Regions from separate parts of the Homo sapiens genome. Here region 1 is linked to region 2. The links come from fine-mapping of genetic effects on plasma protein levels. A gene starts in region 2. The other region holds a variant in brackets. All regions are shown on one strand. Distances are between the middles of the regions. Region 1 overlaps TCN1 (transcobalamin 1). Region 2 holds the start of TCN1 (transcobalamin 1).

What was found. PIP is the posterior inclusion probability: the model's chance that the variant is causal. Protein levels are from antibody-based Olink assays in UK Biobank. Linkage for the fine-mapping came from a reference panel and not from the study's own genotypes, which makes the PIPs less certain.
Region 1: its variant is fine-mapped to the plasma level of the TCN1 protein (UK Biobank, PIP above 0.99).

What each region holds. Positions count from the first base shown.
Region 1 is chr11:59,848,890-59,857,234 of GRCh38, reverse strand. It overlaps TCN1 (transcobalamin 1), which reads left to right. Exons shown (of 9, transcript NM_001062.4): 6 at 1,177-1,366; 7 at 2,400-2,583; 8 at 3,914-4,032; 9 at 4,199-4,427. The coding sequence ends at 4,260. Among named protein-coding and RNA genes, the nearest start is that of CBLIF, 7.6 kb to the right of the region's middle. The variant T/C (reference allele first, on the strand shown) is at 4,369.
Region 2 is chr11:59,863,004-59,871,348 of GRCh38, reverse strand. It overlaps TCN1 (transcobalamin 1), which reads left to right and starts at 4,862. Exons shown (of 9, transcript NM_001062.4): 1 at 4,862-4,957; 2 at 7,263-7,442. The coding sequence starts at 4,879.

The DNA.
Region 1 (8,345 bases), 14 kb after region 2:
ACAAATTCACAGTAGGATCAAGAGCTAATTGCCTACAACACATTGTTGGGTATTTTTAAATATTAATAACATTTAATTTATTGTTATGTATGTGAATAACATTTATTGACGTGTCTTAAGAGGAAATGTACTATGACCAGTTTTTCTTTTTTCTTAATATCCCACAAATGCTTGTGGACAACTTGGTTAGCTTAAGAACCTCCAAGAAAAGATGAAAACAGGAACTGTCCATCCCTGGGAAACTACAGAGCAGCATGTTCAAGTCCGACCCACCTTAGTTCCTGTCTTGCTTACCCCAATGCCCTCCTAACTTTTACTACCTCACAATTCTGCCCCTTCAATCAAGCTTACATTCTGCTGCCAGGAGAGTTTCTGTTTAATGAACAATTAGACTCCCCATTGTCAATCAAATAATGTCAGACACCTCCTCATCGTTGTCAATCAAATGAGGTCAGACATCTCATCATAAAATTCAAGCATCTACTAGTCTAGCCCAACTTCCTTCTCCAGCCTGTTTTTCCACAGTTGCCTCCAATGTTCCCCATACATCAGTTCTCCTAAACCAGGAGGAATCCCCTGAGGAACTTTGCTAAAATGCAGATACTGTCATCATTGCCAGGTCATGTCCTGGCCATTCCTACCTAACACCTTTGTTCATGTTGTTCCTCTTGAGTGCTCTATCCTACTCTCCAAGGCCTAACTCAAATACCACCTTCTCCAGGAAGCTTTTTTTTTTTTAGCTTCATTAAATGTTTGTGAGCTCCTCTCCTCTTTTGAAAGAGGCATCCCACTAGATGCATCCCTTAGGGCATTCCTCTGGCAACTCCTTTTACAGTAGTTTGTTAATATTTATTGAGTGTCTCCTATATGACAGGTATTTCCCAGCACTGGGATACAGAAATGAATGTGGCAAAGTCTGCCTTCATTGGAACTATTATAGCTTGTGTTATTAAGCAGTTCCAACCTCCCTGCCCAAACTAGTTTATAAGCTTCTGGATAACAAGAAAGATAACTGAGTTATCTGAGGTGCTTCCTAGGTAGTCAATGTTCAATTAATACTGAATTAGTTACATATATAGTTATAGATAAGGCTTCCCCCTTATTTGAAGTGTCTCATATTCTCTCTCTGTCTCTCTTTATCTCTCATCACCCCCCCACCCCACCCTGCCTCATTAGGCCCTCTTTGTATCATCAGACTATTATAATGAAAATGACTGGAATTGCCAACAAACTCTGAATACAGTGCTCACGGAAATTTCTCAAGGAGCATTCAGCAATCCAAACGCTGCAGCCCAGGTCTTACCTGCCCTGATGGGAAAGACCTTCTTGGATATTAACAAAGACTCTTCTTGCGTCTCTGCTTCAGGTATAAGCATTAAAGAGAGCACACTGTTTCGCTTTTCACCATAGCACCCAAAGCATGTGAGATTCAGGTGTCCTTTGAAACCAAAAGTGACCAGATAAACCTCCAAAACATAACAGTTGCCAGAGAGAATTCAGTTTTCCTCATGTTACCAGGGTTTACAGTCACCTGAGGATTTGTTCTTAACTGAGTGCTAGATGTCCCTCTTAGTTCAAACATTAACAAGGCAGACCTGATTAAATAATGTCTATCTCCAAAGGTGTATTTTCTGACTGTTGGATATAGAAGGATCTGAGCATCATTCTCATCCTAAATAAAGTATGGAGTATTGGTACCGTGACTCTGACTTTGCACAGTGAGTGATCCCTTAGGGAAATGAGACATCTGTGTGGAAGTGATATGCCAGTATTCAAAAATTGTAGCATGCATTACTTATTCAAAAAATGACCTTGCAACCAGGTAGAAGGAAAGGAGACATTGTCTTATATCTCTGTCCATTCCTGGTTCAGCCACTCACAGGTTTAGGAAACTTGGACAAAATGTTTAACCTCTAAGCTTCAGTTTTCTAATGTAAAAGTTGGGAACAAGGACAGTACCTAACATAGGTTTTTGTAAAGATTGAATGAGACAATCCATGTAAAATGATTAGTATAGTGCCTGGCAATTCATATGTTTTCAATAAACGTTAAGCAATAAAAAGGAGAAAAGACAAGCATTATTGTATGCTGTACCAAGGCAAAAAAAGAAAAAAAAAATCAGGATCCTCTGTGAGAAACAGAAGTTAGAGCAACTGAATTGCTTAAACAGCTGGGAGTTGAGCCAAGTGCCAACATTCACAAGCTGGTGAGTTTGGGTCTTAGTTTCTGCTTTAGTTATATGAGAAATTTGCCCCTTGAGTGATGATAATTGCTCCTTATAGTAAATCCGTGTCTGCATAAAGGCAAGGAGTCCTTGGATAGGGGTTGAGTAGGTCTGCAAACTCTAATATCATTTTTATTTTTCTGAATATTGCTCTGGGCTTTTCTGTCTCTGCCAGGTAACTTCAACATCTCCGCTGATGAGCCTATAACTGTGACACCTCCTGACTCACAATCATATATCTCCGTCAATTACTCTGTGAGAATCAATGAAACATATTTCACCAATGTCACTGTGCTAAATGGTTCTGTCTTCCTCAGTGTGATGGAGAAAGCCCAGAAAATGAATGATACTATATTTGGGTAGGTCTGTACCTAACCTAAGGTTAAGATGTTTGCTGTCATTTCTAAAGATGCAGTAAGAATGCATTTGCACCTAAATACAAAGTATATTTAAAATGCTTCTGGGTCAGTAGCTTTGCTGTCCATCTACATCTCACAGCAGGAGTTTAAAATAGGAGGTGAGGTATTTCATCTTCTTGCACATAATAGGTAGTAAATTAATGTTCGCTAAATAAATTAATGAATCTCAGGGCTCTCTCTTATTTCAGTAAAATTCTTGCAATAAATGTAACTTCTAAAGTCAAACATTTGAGATCTAGAACAGTGGTTCTTAACTCTTTTTGAATCACGGACCCCTTTGAAAATCAAGTGAATGTAATGAATGTTCATCCAGGAAAAAAATGAACATACACACAAAAATTGGCATTTGTTTATTTATTTATTTTACAGACAGCATCTTACTATGTTGCACAGGCTGGTCTTGAATTCCTGGGCTCAAGAGATCTGCCCACCTCAGCCTCCCAAAGTGCTGGGATTACAGGCATGAGCCACTGCCAAATTTAGCATTTCAACTGAGGGTTTCACAGATACCCTGAAGCTTCTCCCTGCCCTCGCTTTCAGAAAACTCATAGATCCCCAAACTAAAGTAACTGGTCAAGGAGGTCAAGTATTAAAATTAAAATAATGGCTTTGCCTCTGAAAAGTATGACTTATTTGGCTCCTTAACTCTAGTTGACAGTTATTTATCATATCTAACAACACAGTGTAGGATGCTATAAAGAAAATCAGAATAATAATATAATATACATTATAAAGGCTACCCTCAAGGGCTTTAAGGGAGGTAGAAAAATGACTACGGAATATAAAACAGATACTGACCTGTCACTTTTTAATAAACACAATATGAAATATCAAATTATCCTTTCCTGTTCCTCTTTTCTAAGGGAAAACTCAGTAACTTATGGTGTCTCTAGCACATGAGGATCATATGTTCTTCTACTGAATCAGTATCTTTAGCAGTTACTATCTTGGGGTGGAAGGTTGAAGCTGTTATCTGAAACCTATCTACCATGGCAGGTGGGGAGAGCAGAAACCATGAGCATCATTTCTCTAATTTAGCATGGAGTGTGGAGTGCCTGCATTAGAATCAGCTGGAGTGTTTATAAAGCATGCAGATTCCTGATCCCCAGCTCATATCTAAAAATAAAAATATCTATGGATAGGGCCAGGAAATCTGCATTTTTATAATGTCATCAAGTGATTCTCAGGTACATTAAAGTTTGAGAAATGCCTATTGTTGGTTTCCTTTGACAATTCTAAGTTCCAGTAACCTACTTGCTGTCACCCACAGTTTCACAATGGAGGAGCGCTCATGGGGGCCCTATATCACCTGTATTCAGGGCCTATGTGCCAACAATAATGACAGAACCTACTGGGAACTTCTGAGTGGAGGCGAACCACTGAGCCAAGGTAAGGGAGAGACATGCCAAAAAGACCCATGCTAAAAATGCCCAAATGGAGAGGGGTGTGAGCCTCTGTGGGGATTGGGCCAAGGGGTTAGTAGAGATGACATCCATTATTTGGTGATTTAGTGGCCAAATCATTTGACCCAGTTCTCTTTCTTCTTCCTTTTCAGGAGCTGGTAGTTACGTTGTCCGCAATGGAGAAAACTTGGAGGTTCGCTGGAGCAAATACTAATAAGCCCAAACTTTCCTCAGCTGCATAAAATCCATTTGCAGTGGAGTTCCATGTTTATTGTCCTTATGCCTTCTTCTTCATTTATCCCAGTACGAGCAGGAGAGTTAA[T/C]AACCTCCCCTTCTCTCTCTACATGTTCAATAAAAGTTGTTGAAAGATTAACAACTATACAAAAAGAGCATGTTCTAATTAGTTCATTCTGAAAGGATTTTAAAATGTATTAGAGGAAAGTCCACCTAAGGAAAAACTGAAGTGAAAAGAAATGAGACCACATGTCTAATAAGCGGGGTTCTACTCAAGGTTCTCCTACTAACTATCTCAGTGGCATTGGGCAACTGGGTAAAATGGGGATAAGGTTCTAGGTCTAATGTTGCAGCAACAACCAATGAGATCAAGCAGAAAGTCTGTGAAAGACTGAGCTCTCTGAGGCCCAGATGCAAGAGAGGAGCCCATTGGTCACACTGATTTCATACAGGTAGTGGGTAAAAAAAACATGTTGCTCAGAAGAAAGGGGGAAACGTGAGGCATATACATAAAAGGTCTGCCCGTAGTTTGAGAAACAATCTCATCCCCTGCCTCCAGATGTCTCCCTTGGGTCCCACTTATTCTTCTCTTACATTTATTTTCCCTTTATTTCCCCATAAAATCACCCCAATATTCATGTCATCAAAATACATATGCAAAAAAGTCACTTATCATGTTCATTTCCACAGAATTCACTTTTTTCCTTTTTTATTTTTCTAATCAATTTTTGTCATGCTAAGAAGTCACGTCTTAAAGGAAAAAAGTTGAATCACATCAAGGCAGCATGAGCTTGTACTTATACTGAGTACCTGGGCTACATGCAGTACAGTCAGAAACTAGAAGGACACTTAAGATACCAAAGGACAAAAGGTACTTTATGTAAAGTGTAAAGTAACCCATTTAAAGTAATTTCCTGCAAATAAAAACCACAATGAGACACCATGCCACACCAGTCACAATGGCTACTATTAAAAAGTCAGAAAATAACAGATGCTAGTGAGGTTATGGAGAAAAAGAAACACATACACTGTTGGTAGGAGTGTAAATTAGTTCAACCACTGGGGAAAGCAGTGTGGAGATTGCTCAAAGAGCTAAAAACAGAACTACCATTCAACCCAGCAATCTCATTACTGGGTATATACCCAAAGGACTATAAATCATTCTACATCTAAATCTAATATAAACCGCGTGTATGTGTATTGCAGCACTATTCACAATAGCAAAAATATGGAATCAACCTAAATGTCCATCAATGATAGACTTTTAAAGAAAACACAGTACATATACACTATGGAATACTATGCAGCCATAAAAAATGAGATCATATCCTTTGCAGGAACATGGATGGAGCCAGAGGCCATTATCCTTAGCAAACTAACACAGGAAACTGCATATTCTCACTTATAAGTGGGAACTAAATGATGAGAACACATGGACACATAGAGGGGAACAACACACACTGGGGCCTATGAGAGGGTGGAGGGTGGCGAGGAGGGCGAAGATCAGGAAAAATAACGAATGGATACTAGGCTTAATGCCTGGGTGATGAAATAATCTGTAAAACAAACCCCCATGTCATGGGTTTACCTACACAACAAACCTGCACATGTATACCTGAACTTAAAGTTTAAAATAAAGTAATTTTTAAAAGAAAAATGCCTTCAGGTAGAATTAGTTGAATTATTATTTATTTTATTATTTTTTTTAGACAGAGTTTCGCTCTTGTTGCCCAGGCTGGAGTGCAATGGTGTGATCTCGGCTCATCGCAACCTCCGCCTCCTGGGTTCAAGTGATTCTCCTGCCTTGGCCTCCTGAGTAGCTGGGATTACAGGCATGCACCACCATGCCCAGCTAATTTTGTATTTTTAGTAGAGGTGGGGTTTCTCCATGTTGGCCAGGCTGGTCTCGAACTCTTAACCTCAGGTGATCCACCCACCTTGGCCTCCTAAAGCACTGGGATTACAGGCGTGAGCCACCACGCCCAGCCAGGTGAATTATTTTAACAATGTCTTCCTCATTTCTCCTGTGTTTTCTTCACAATCATCCTAGCTTCCTCTCCTTCACCAGTGACACTGCTTCACAGTCAGAGATTGAACCCTCTTCCAACATACTGCTTTCTGCTATTGATACTCGATGCTCAGGTTCAACTCTGCCCTGGTCTTCATTAACTGGATGTAACACATGACCCTCATGAGTGGACAGAAATGGATTCTATCCCTTGGGTCTGTGTCTCATCTTTAAAGCTAAGTTAGAAAATATATACACCTACTGTGTACCCACAAAAATTAAAAATATAATAACAATAATAATAATAATAATAATAAAGCTAAATTAGAGAAGCTGGGAGCCATGTTACCCTTCCAGGATCCCTGGTGCTGTTAATCGTCAGATCTGTTTGTAGCCTATACAAGCTATGTGAAATTGAAGGATACTGGTTTAAGGTGAGAAATATGCAAAATGTCAGAATTGCATACTAGCAATTAGCACTACTAGCATTTATTTCTAACAGACAGAGCCTAGTTTCTCCCAGCCAGAGGTCTTAAAGTATAATGTAGGCCGGACGCAGTGGCTCACGCCTGTAATCCCAGCACATTGGGAGGCTGAGGCAGGTGGATCACTAGGTCAGGAGATCGAGACTATCCTGGCCAACATGGTGAAACCCCGTCTCTACTAAAAATGCAAAAATTAGCAAGGTGTGGTGGCATGCGCCTGTAGTGCCAACTACTCGGGAGGCTAAGGCAGGAGAATCGCTTGAATCTGGGAGGCGGAGGCTGCAGTGAGCCGAGAATGCGCCACTGCACTCCAGCCTGGGAAACAGAGCTAGACTCTGTCTCAAAAAAAAAAAAAGTATAATGTAGTAAGTAACATTGCTGTCTGATATAAATGCCTTTAATCTCAGAAGTAGACATGAAATAACACTCCCTTAGGGTTCCACTAACATCGGCCCTTGAAACCTAGTTCTGAGGACAGGCGTGGTGGCTCATGCCTGTAATCCCAGTACTTTGGGAGGCCAAGGCAGGCAGATAACTGAGGTTAAGAGTTTGAGACCAGCCTGGCCAACATGGCGAAACCCCACCTCTACTAAAAATACAAAAATTAGCTGGGCATATTGGCAGGCAATTGTAATCCCAGCTACTCAGGAGGCTGAGGCAGGAGAATCACTTGAACCCGGGAGGCAGAGGTTGCAGTGAGCTGAGATCACACCATTGTACCCCAGCCTGGGCAACACAGCCAGACTCCATCTCAGAAAAACATAAAAATAAAAATAAAAATAAGAAACCTAATTGGCCACACTTGCCTTACAAGAAGCTCCTACAGCTTGAGACTATTACAGAACCTGAACTGAGTCTGAAGAGAGAAACTTCCTTTTGCTGCCACAGCAAAGAATAATCACCACAAATAAACCTCACTTATGTCCAGAGAGAGTCTAGGTGCTTTGATACCAAAATATTAGGCACAGGAGAAACAAGGAAATAAATGAACACATCATCCCAGTCAATAGTTAACCAAGGACTGTCAAAATATCCCTGTTAAGAAATGTATGGCCTGTGTGGTTCCTGTTCTGGGAATTATTTACTAACTGCAACAATTGTGTCACGATCAATCTTGCAGCAGCCCTGGTTGTAAATGGTAATTTATAATACAAGGAAGTGAGTGGTTAAAGAGCTGGCAGGCCAAGGGTGTGTGGATCATCTCAGGACGATCAGGAGCAGGCTCTGGAATGCAAAGTCAGCACCATACTGTACTCATAATCCTGTATTAGATTCTTATTGTTGCTGTAACAGATTACCACTAATTTTGTTATTTAAGACAAATTTATCATCTCACAGTTCTGGAAGTCAGAGTCTCACTGGGCTAAAATCAAGGTGTCGAAGGAGCTGTGTTCCTTCTAGAGGTGGCAGCAGTAAACCAAGTTCTTTCCCTACTTTGTATGGGTCACAAAGAAGGAACATGCAATTGGACAAAAGCAATTGGGTCGTATTCACTGGCCAGGGAATGGAGAAGGGGAGCTCTCGCTCTAAAGGCGCATTCTCCTTAAGCAATGGGAAGCAGGGAAATTTTCA
Region 2 (8,345 bases):
GAAAATCATTATATAATGATAAAGGAGCCAATTCATCAAAAAGATATAAAAATTATAAATATTTATGTACCCAACATTGGGTGCTTAAAGCAAATATTAACAGAACTAATGTGAAAAATAAACAGCAAAACAGTAACAGAGGTGACTTTAATACCCCACACTCAACAATGGATAGATAATCCAGACAGAAAATCAATAAGGAACTACCATATTTGAACAATACTTAGACCAAATGGACCTAACAGACATATACAGAACATTCCATCCAACAGCAGGGGAGTACACATTCTTCTCAAGCACATATAAAACATTCTCCAGGATAGATCACATTAAGTCACAAAATAAGTGTTAACAAATTTAAGAATATTGAAATTATATCAAGTATCTTTTCTGACCCCAATGGTATGAAACTGGAAATCAATAATGTGAGAAAAATTGGAACATTTACAAATACATGGAAATTAGATAATTCACTCCTGAACAATCAAGGAGCCAAAGAGGAAATTAATGAGGAAGTAAAAAGTATCTTGAGACAAATGAAAAGGTAAACTCAATATCTGAAAACATATAGGATACAGCAAAAGCAGTACTGAGAGGAAAATTCATAGTTATAAATGTCTAGATTAAGGAAAAATAAAGATTTCAAATGAACAAACTAAGTTTAAACATTAAGGAACTAGAAAAAGAATAATCTAAACCCAAAGTTATCAGAAAGAAGGAAACAACAAAGATCAAAGCAGAAACAAATAAAATAGAGAATAGAAAAACAATGGAAAAGATCAACAAAACTAAAAGTTGGTTTTCGGAAAAGATAAAAAAAAATCGACAAACCTTTAGCTAGACTAACCAAGAAAAAAGAGAGAAAACTCAAATAAGTAAAATTATAAATGAAAGAAGTGAAGACATTACAACTGCTATCACAGAAATACAAAGAATCATAAGAGACTACTATGAACAATTATATGCCAGCAAATGGGATAACCTAGAAGAAATGCATAAATTCCTAGAAACACACAATGTGCCAACAATGAATCATGAAGACATAGAAAATCTGAACAGACCAAAAATATAAATAAGGGGACTGAATCAGCAATCAAAAACCTCCCTACAAAGAAAAGCCTAGGACCAGATGTTTCACTGGTGAATTCAACCAAATACCTAAAGAAGAATTAATGGCAATTCCTCACAAACTGTCCCAAAATATTGTAGAAAGAATATTTCCAAACTCATTTTACAAGATGAGTATTACCCTAATACCAAAGCCAGATAAGGACACTACCAAAAAAAAAAAAAAAATCACAGGCCAATACCCATAATAAACATAGATGCAAAAATCCTCAACAAAATACTAGCAAACCAAATTCAACAGCACATTAAAAAAAAAGCAAAAAAAAAAAAATCAATCAAAAAAATTTAGCATCCTTTCATGATAAAAAAAAACTCTCAACAAATTGGGTATAGAAGAATTCTACTACTGAGCCATTAAAAGGAATGAAATAATGTTAATAATAAGTGAGAAAATATTTTTTTTGGTTTTCTACTCCTGTGTTGCTTAGAATAATTGCCTCCAGCTCCATCCAAGTTGCTGTGGAATATTTGAGAAAATATTTGCGAACCTATATCTGAAAATAGATTAATATCCAAAATATGTAAGAACCATGCAATTCAATAGCAAAATGAAAACAAAAACAAAACAAATAACCTGATTTTAAAATGGGCTAAGGACCTCAACATTTTCCAAAGAAGACATAAAAATGGCAAACAGGCATGAGAAAACATGCACAATATCACTAATCATCAGAGAAATTCAAATCAGAATAATCACATCACCTTATACCTGTTAGGGTGACTATTATCAAAAAGACAAAAGATAACAAAGTATGGATGAGGATGTAGAGAAAAGAGAATCCTTTGTGTTTGCAGAATGTAAATTTGCACAACCATTATGGAAGACAGTGTGGTGGTTCTTCAAAAAATTATAAATGGAACTGCAATATGATCCAACAATCTTAATTCTGGGTACATATCCAAAGGAAGCAAAAGCAGTGTTTCAAAGAAATATATGTACTCCCGAATGGGCACGGTGGCTCACGCCTGTAATCGCAGCACTTTGGGAGGCTGAGGTGGGTGGATCACCTGAGGTCAGGAGTTTAAGACCAGCCTGATCAACATGTTGAAACCCTGTCTCTACTAAAAAAAAATAGAAAAGTTAGCCGGTGTGGTGGCAGATACCTGTAATCCCAGCTACTCTGGAGGCTGAGGCAGGAAAATCACTTGGACCCGGGAGGTGGAGTTTCCAGTGAGCTGAGATTGCACCATTGCACTCCAGCTTGGGCGACAAGAGAGAAACTCTGTCTCAAAAACAAACAAACAAACAAACAAACAAACAAAAATATATATTATATAAAATATGTACTCCCATGTTCATTGCAGCATTATTCACAATATCAAAGACATAGAAACAACCTACATATCTGTTGATGGATGAAGGGATAAAAATTGTGATTTATATACACACACACATATATGTGTGTGTGTGTATATATATATTTATATTTATATAATAGAATAGTATTCAGCCATAAAAAAGAAGGAAATAGTGCCCTTTGAGACAGCATGGATGAACCTGAAGAATATCATGCTAAATGAAATAAGTCACAGACAAATACTATGATCTCATTTATATGTAGATTCTAAAAATTATCAAATACATGGAAACAGAGAGTAGAATGGTGGTTTCCACATAAGTTTTATATAAATATGTGAGAGAGAGAAAGAGATTTATTCCAAGGAGTTGATTCATGCCCTTATGGAGGCTAAGAAGTCCCACAGTCTACTGTCTGCATGCAGTAAAAGTCAGTGGAGTGATTCAGGCCAAACTGAAAGCCCAAGAACCAGGGGAGCCGATGGTGTAAATCTCAGTTTGAGGGCTGGAGAAGATAAGATGTCCTAGCTCAAACAGGCTGGCAGGAAGCAAAAAAAGGGTGAATTCCCCCTTCCTTCACCATTTTATTCTATTCAGGGTCTCAATAGATTGATTGATGCACACCTACATTGGAGACGGCATTCTACTTTCCAGAGTCCACCAATTAAAATGCTAATCCTATCTGGAAACACCCTCACAGATACATCGAGAAATAGTGTTTAATCTGGGCACTCAGGTGCCAGTCAAGTTGACACAGAAAATTAACCATCACAGAGGTACAATGCAAATAGTGGCTCATTAAGTCATGACATCCTTAGCTAGGCTGACAGTATTCTCTAATAGTTCTCAGAAGAACTGTGATAGGCAACACTTCTCACATGTAGCAACTGCCCTGGCAGGGCAGAAATTCACATTTGATGTATAGCTCTCTGGTTTTCCTCCTTGGTTAGGAAACTCTCATGGAATCTATCTTAGGAGAAAAATCATAGTTTGGAAACCACTATGCCAAAGATCCCCTCATGTGCTGGGTTCTCCAATACTGCCTGCTTCAATTTCAGACTTACAACTTTTACTTCCGTTTTTAAATTTTTTTATTTCAATTTTTGTAGGTACATAGTAGGTGTATATATTTATGGGGCTCATGAAATGTTTTGATACAGGCATGCAATGCGTAATAATCACATCATAGAGAAGGGGGTATTCATCCTGTCAAGCATTTATCCTTTACGTTACAAACAATCCAGTTATACTATTAGTTATTTAAAATGTACAATTAAATTATTATTGACTATAGTCACCCTGTTATGCTACCAATAGTAGGTCTTATTCATTCTTTCCAATATTTTGTACCCATTAACCCTCCGCATCTCCTTCCCACCACTAGCCTTCCCAGCCCCCAGTAACCATCTTTTCATTCTCTATCTCTATGAATTCAATTGTTTTGATTTTTAGATCCCACAAATAAGTGAGAACATGCAATGTATGTCTTTCTGTGCCTGGCTTATTTCACTTAACATAATTATCTCCAGTTCCATCCATTTTGTCACAACTGACAGGATTTCATTCTTTTATATGGCTGAATAGTACTCCATTGTGTATATGTACATTTGCTGTGTTCATTTATCTGTTGATAGACACTTAGCTTGCTTCCAAATCTTGGTTATTGTAAACAGTGCTGCAACAAACATGGGAGTGCAGATATCTCTTCAATATACTGGTCTTCTTTCTTTTGGGTATATAGCCAGCAGTGGGATTGCTGGATCATATGGTAGCTCTATGTTTAGTTTTTTGAGGAAGCTCCAAACTGTTCTCCATAGTGATTGTACTAATTTACATTCCCACCAACAGTGTACAAGGCTTCCCTTTTCTCTACATCCGTGCCAGCATTTGTTATTGCCTGTGTTTTGAATAAAGCCATTTTTAGCTGAGATGAGAGGATATCTCATTGTAGCTTTGATTTCCATTTATCTGATGATCAATGATGTTAAGCACCTTTTCAAGCACTTTTTCATATGCCTGCTTCCCATTTGGATGTCTTCTTTTACTTCCATTTTTATATGTTGTATGTGTTTGCATGATCAAATCTACTTTATCAGGAAACATAAAACATAAAGTGAAACGGAAAAAAAAGGAAAGATTATAGGAAACAGTCATTTGCCTAATATATCTTCACTGCACGGAAGGCAAATAATAGATATGAAACCCGAAGGTTTAGGACAGGAGACAAAGGAAAGTTATTGCCTTATTCTCCCTAACCACATCCTTCAAGTCTTCTTCCTTATTTATTACATCACATGGACAAATACACTTGACCACACCTCCTGACATTGCTCAATATTTGCTTGAGTGAAAAGAGGCTGAGGCAACCTGAAGGAGGAGCTCTCATTACCTTCTGCCCATCACTTAATAAATAGCCAGCCAATTCATCAACATTCTGGTACACTGTTGGAGAGATGAGACAGTCACACCAGCTGCCCCTAGTGGGGCTCTTACTGTTTTCTTTTATTCCAAGCCAACTATGCGAGATTTGTGGTGAGTAAACTTTGAGCTAAAATTACTCTAGAGTGATAGTCTACTGAAAACTGTTGACAAGAGACTCTATGTAGAGTTACCTGAGAAAAGATCCCATTCCAGTTTCGTATGTGGTTGGACTCCATGAATGATGAAAAGGGTGGCAGGAGATGGTGAGGAAAGTCTCACAATGCATGTTGTTGTAAGAGGAATTATAGATTGTGTATTCACTTGCCTAACTGCTCTTTCTATGCTCAGATCCTCTCTAGCACAGCATCCCTACCAAGTAACTCCCTATTCATGTGACTTTTCAATGACAGAAAATTTATGCTCCCAGAAACTTTTCTAGATCATGGAAAGTTATCTTTTGGTCTTGATATGCAATCTTTTTTCCCTGAAATTCAATGCATGATTTTTGGGTTAACCCCTTGTAACTACATAGAAAAAAATAATAATCTCTTTCAAATAGTGATGACTGCTGTCTTGTCATGAGTGAGTTTAGATGTTCCAAGTTGCATGTCCACCTTCCTTCAACTCTTTCCCAGGACACATGGGATAAAGTTCCATCATCTCTTGCATGGGTGTTGACCCCAGAGATTGTGTGGTTCTGTAAAAGAACTTTAAAGTAAGAGAAGGGAAAACTAAATTCAGGTTTAGTTTGATCCCTTAGTTATTGAATGACCCAACATTTCTGAATTTCTTTAGCTTCATTCATAAATAAAGGATAATGAGGGGAGACTATTGAAGCAAATTATCTCATGAAGTCTGGTGCAGTTCTCAAGTGCATGAATTCTCTTTTGTGAGACTTTACTCTGAAATTGAGCTTCAAACCAGTCCAAAGATTACTAGGTGGTACTATCTGTGCTCTCTAACCAGTAAGAAGAGAACACCACAGAAGACAGGCTTGTATACATACAGGCTAAAGCATAGACTCTTCTGACTCTGATTTTTCTTCTTGGCTTGACATTTCCCCTGTTGGATCCTAAGAATAGGGAATGGCTATGTAGGTTTTAGCTTTCAATTCATTTTAAATAATAATGATAATAATTAAATTTATCTTTGAGACTCAAGGAAGCTGATTTGAGTTGTTGATCAGGAACTAAAAAGTCTGTTTCAGGGCCAGAAAATCTGCTGAGCTGGATGGTTCCACAAAATCTCAGAGAACTGACTCACAATTGTTCCATTGTGTCTGCAACAAACCATGACCTTTCTACAATCACTCTATTCAGATCTTCTTGACTCATTCTTTTAAAGTAAAGAAAACTGGGCAAGAGAAATTACATTTCCTTGATTCTCAAGTATAGTGATAAAAACTCCAGTTGAGCTGGAAATAATAGTATGTGCAGCATTTTACAGTTTATTCGGTGGTTTCTTGTCCAATATCTGTAAGGTAAGTGTTAACAGCCACAATTTTTAAATGAGAAAACTAAGAGTAAAACAAGTTACATAAGTTATTATCCACAGTCATAAGTTAAGGAGCACAAAATGTGGCCAAAATCTGAATCCAAACCTCATGTTCTTCTCACTCTCCCACTAATCCATTAGATAATCTGGAGATATGTAGGATTTGGGGCTACTCCTCAAGATTATGGAAAAATACATTGACAAAGTGTCCTGTGTTTAAATAAATAGTAAATCTTTTTATTCTCCTCTATTTCCTTGGGAGCTATGGATTTTCCTACTTCCACAGTATAATGTGACTTCCCTCCATCTCTGGAATTGGGGCATATTGTAGGCTAAAACTGGAGAGTTTTTTACAGGCTGCATAATGCTAAATAATGATCTCGATGCCCAGCCAGCTGGGTAATCAGACAATGAAGTTTTGGGGTCAATCACCAGTATAACACAGAATTATTACCTGCATTTTCTCAACATTAACCCAGTTGATTTAGAAGATGGAGAAGGAAAGAACTGAATCCAGGAAGTAGAAAGTCCTGCTTACTGAGAGTCAGAAGACATGTAGTCTAGTTTCAGCTCAGCCTCCAATTATGGAAGTTTCTTTAAGGACAATCTATCTAAGCTTCATATACAAAATTAGGGAATGATGCTAGATTTCCCAGGCAGGAGTCTGCCAGTACACAATGATAAGTCTGCACCAGTTGTTAAAATATTAAAACATTTTCATGTTGGTTGTTAAAGGAGTAATGTCTGGCATGGGGGTGGGTTCAAGACCCACCTTTGTATTATTCCACCAACACAGTCTGCAGCCACTGGATTGGTCTAGGTCTGTGCCATATCTGTTACTAAATATTTTTATATAACCCCTGCTGCAAGTCTTACTATTTTCTGAGTATGTGTTTCTTATTTCCTTCCTTCTCTGCCACAGAGGTAAGTGAAGAAAACTACATCCGCCTAAAACCTCTGTTGAATACAATGATCCAGTCAAACTATAACAGGGGAACCAGCGCTGTCAATGTTGTGTTGTCCCTCAAACTTGTTGGAATCCAGATCCAAACCCTGATGCAAAAGATGATCCAACAAATCAAATACAATGTGAAAAGCAGATGTAAGTTGCTGTATATTCTGGAAGATTTAGAAAAAAATCTACCTATTTAAAGATTATCTGCAACTAATCCTAAAAAATTATGCATCCAAAGTATCCCTGCTACATCCCTTCTAATGGTACCAAACTTGAGGTAACAGAAACATGCCCAAAATACAATCCCATGCCATTCACCCTAGAGCTAGGTCTTGCTTCTTTTGGTCTTAAAAACCACTTTTCTTCAAGAAGCCACAAACAAAAGCTATGGATTTTTATCCATTAATGCTGTTATATAAGCTAGCTTAGTTCACAACCACATGGGAATACAGATCATAACTAAGAAAGCTGGTGATGGAAAGGCAACCATGGAACAACCCAGATTTGAACTAGGTATGGGTGGGCCTTGAACCAGTCATGTTAATACTGAGCCTCAGTTTTCTAATTAGTATAAGGGGAAAAGAAGCCACTCTTACCTACCTCATAATATTATTATAAGAATTATGAGAATCCTGAGAGTTTGGATACTCTAAAAGGCAGAACATTAAAAATCAAGAATTACTATCCTAGCAAGCTGGTACCACAAAGAAAAAAAAACCCAAGATCTTGTTGTTTATCTATTTTTCCTCTTTTTCACTTTCATAAGGATTGTATGATTCCAAAACGATTCTGTGATTTTTATGGAAAAGACAAAGATTTAGTTTGCATTTATACAGTACTGCTCTAAAAGGCTCTGCTTTGAGGATAAAGAAGAGAGGAATCAAATATTCATACAGGAATGCATCACATAATGATGAATATATATGACGGTGGTCCCACAAGATTTTAATAGTGTATTTTTATTGTACCTTTTCTGTGCTTGGATATGTTTAGATACACAAATACTATTGGGCTACAATTGCCTATAGTATTCAGGACAGTAACATGCTA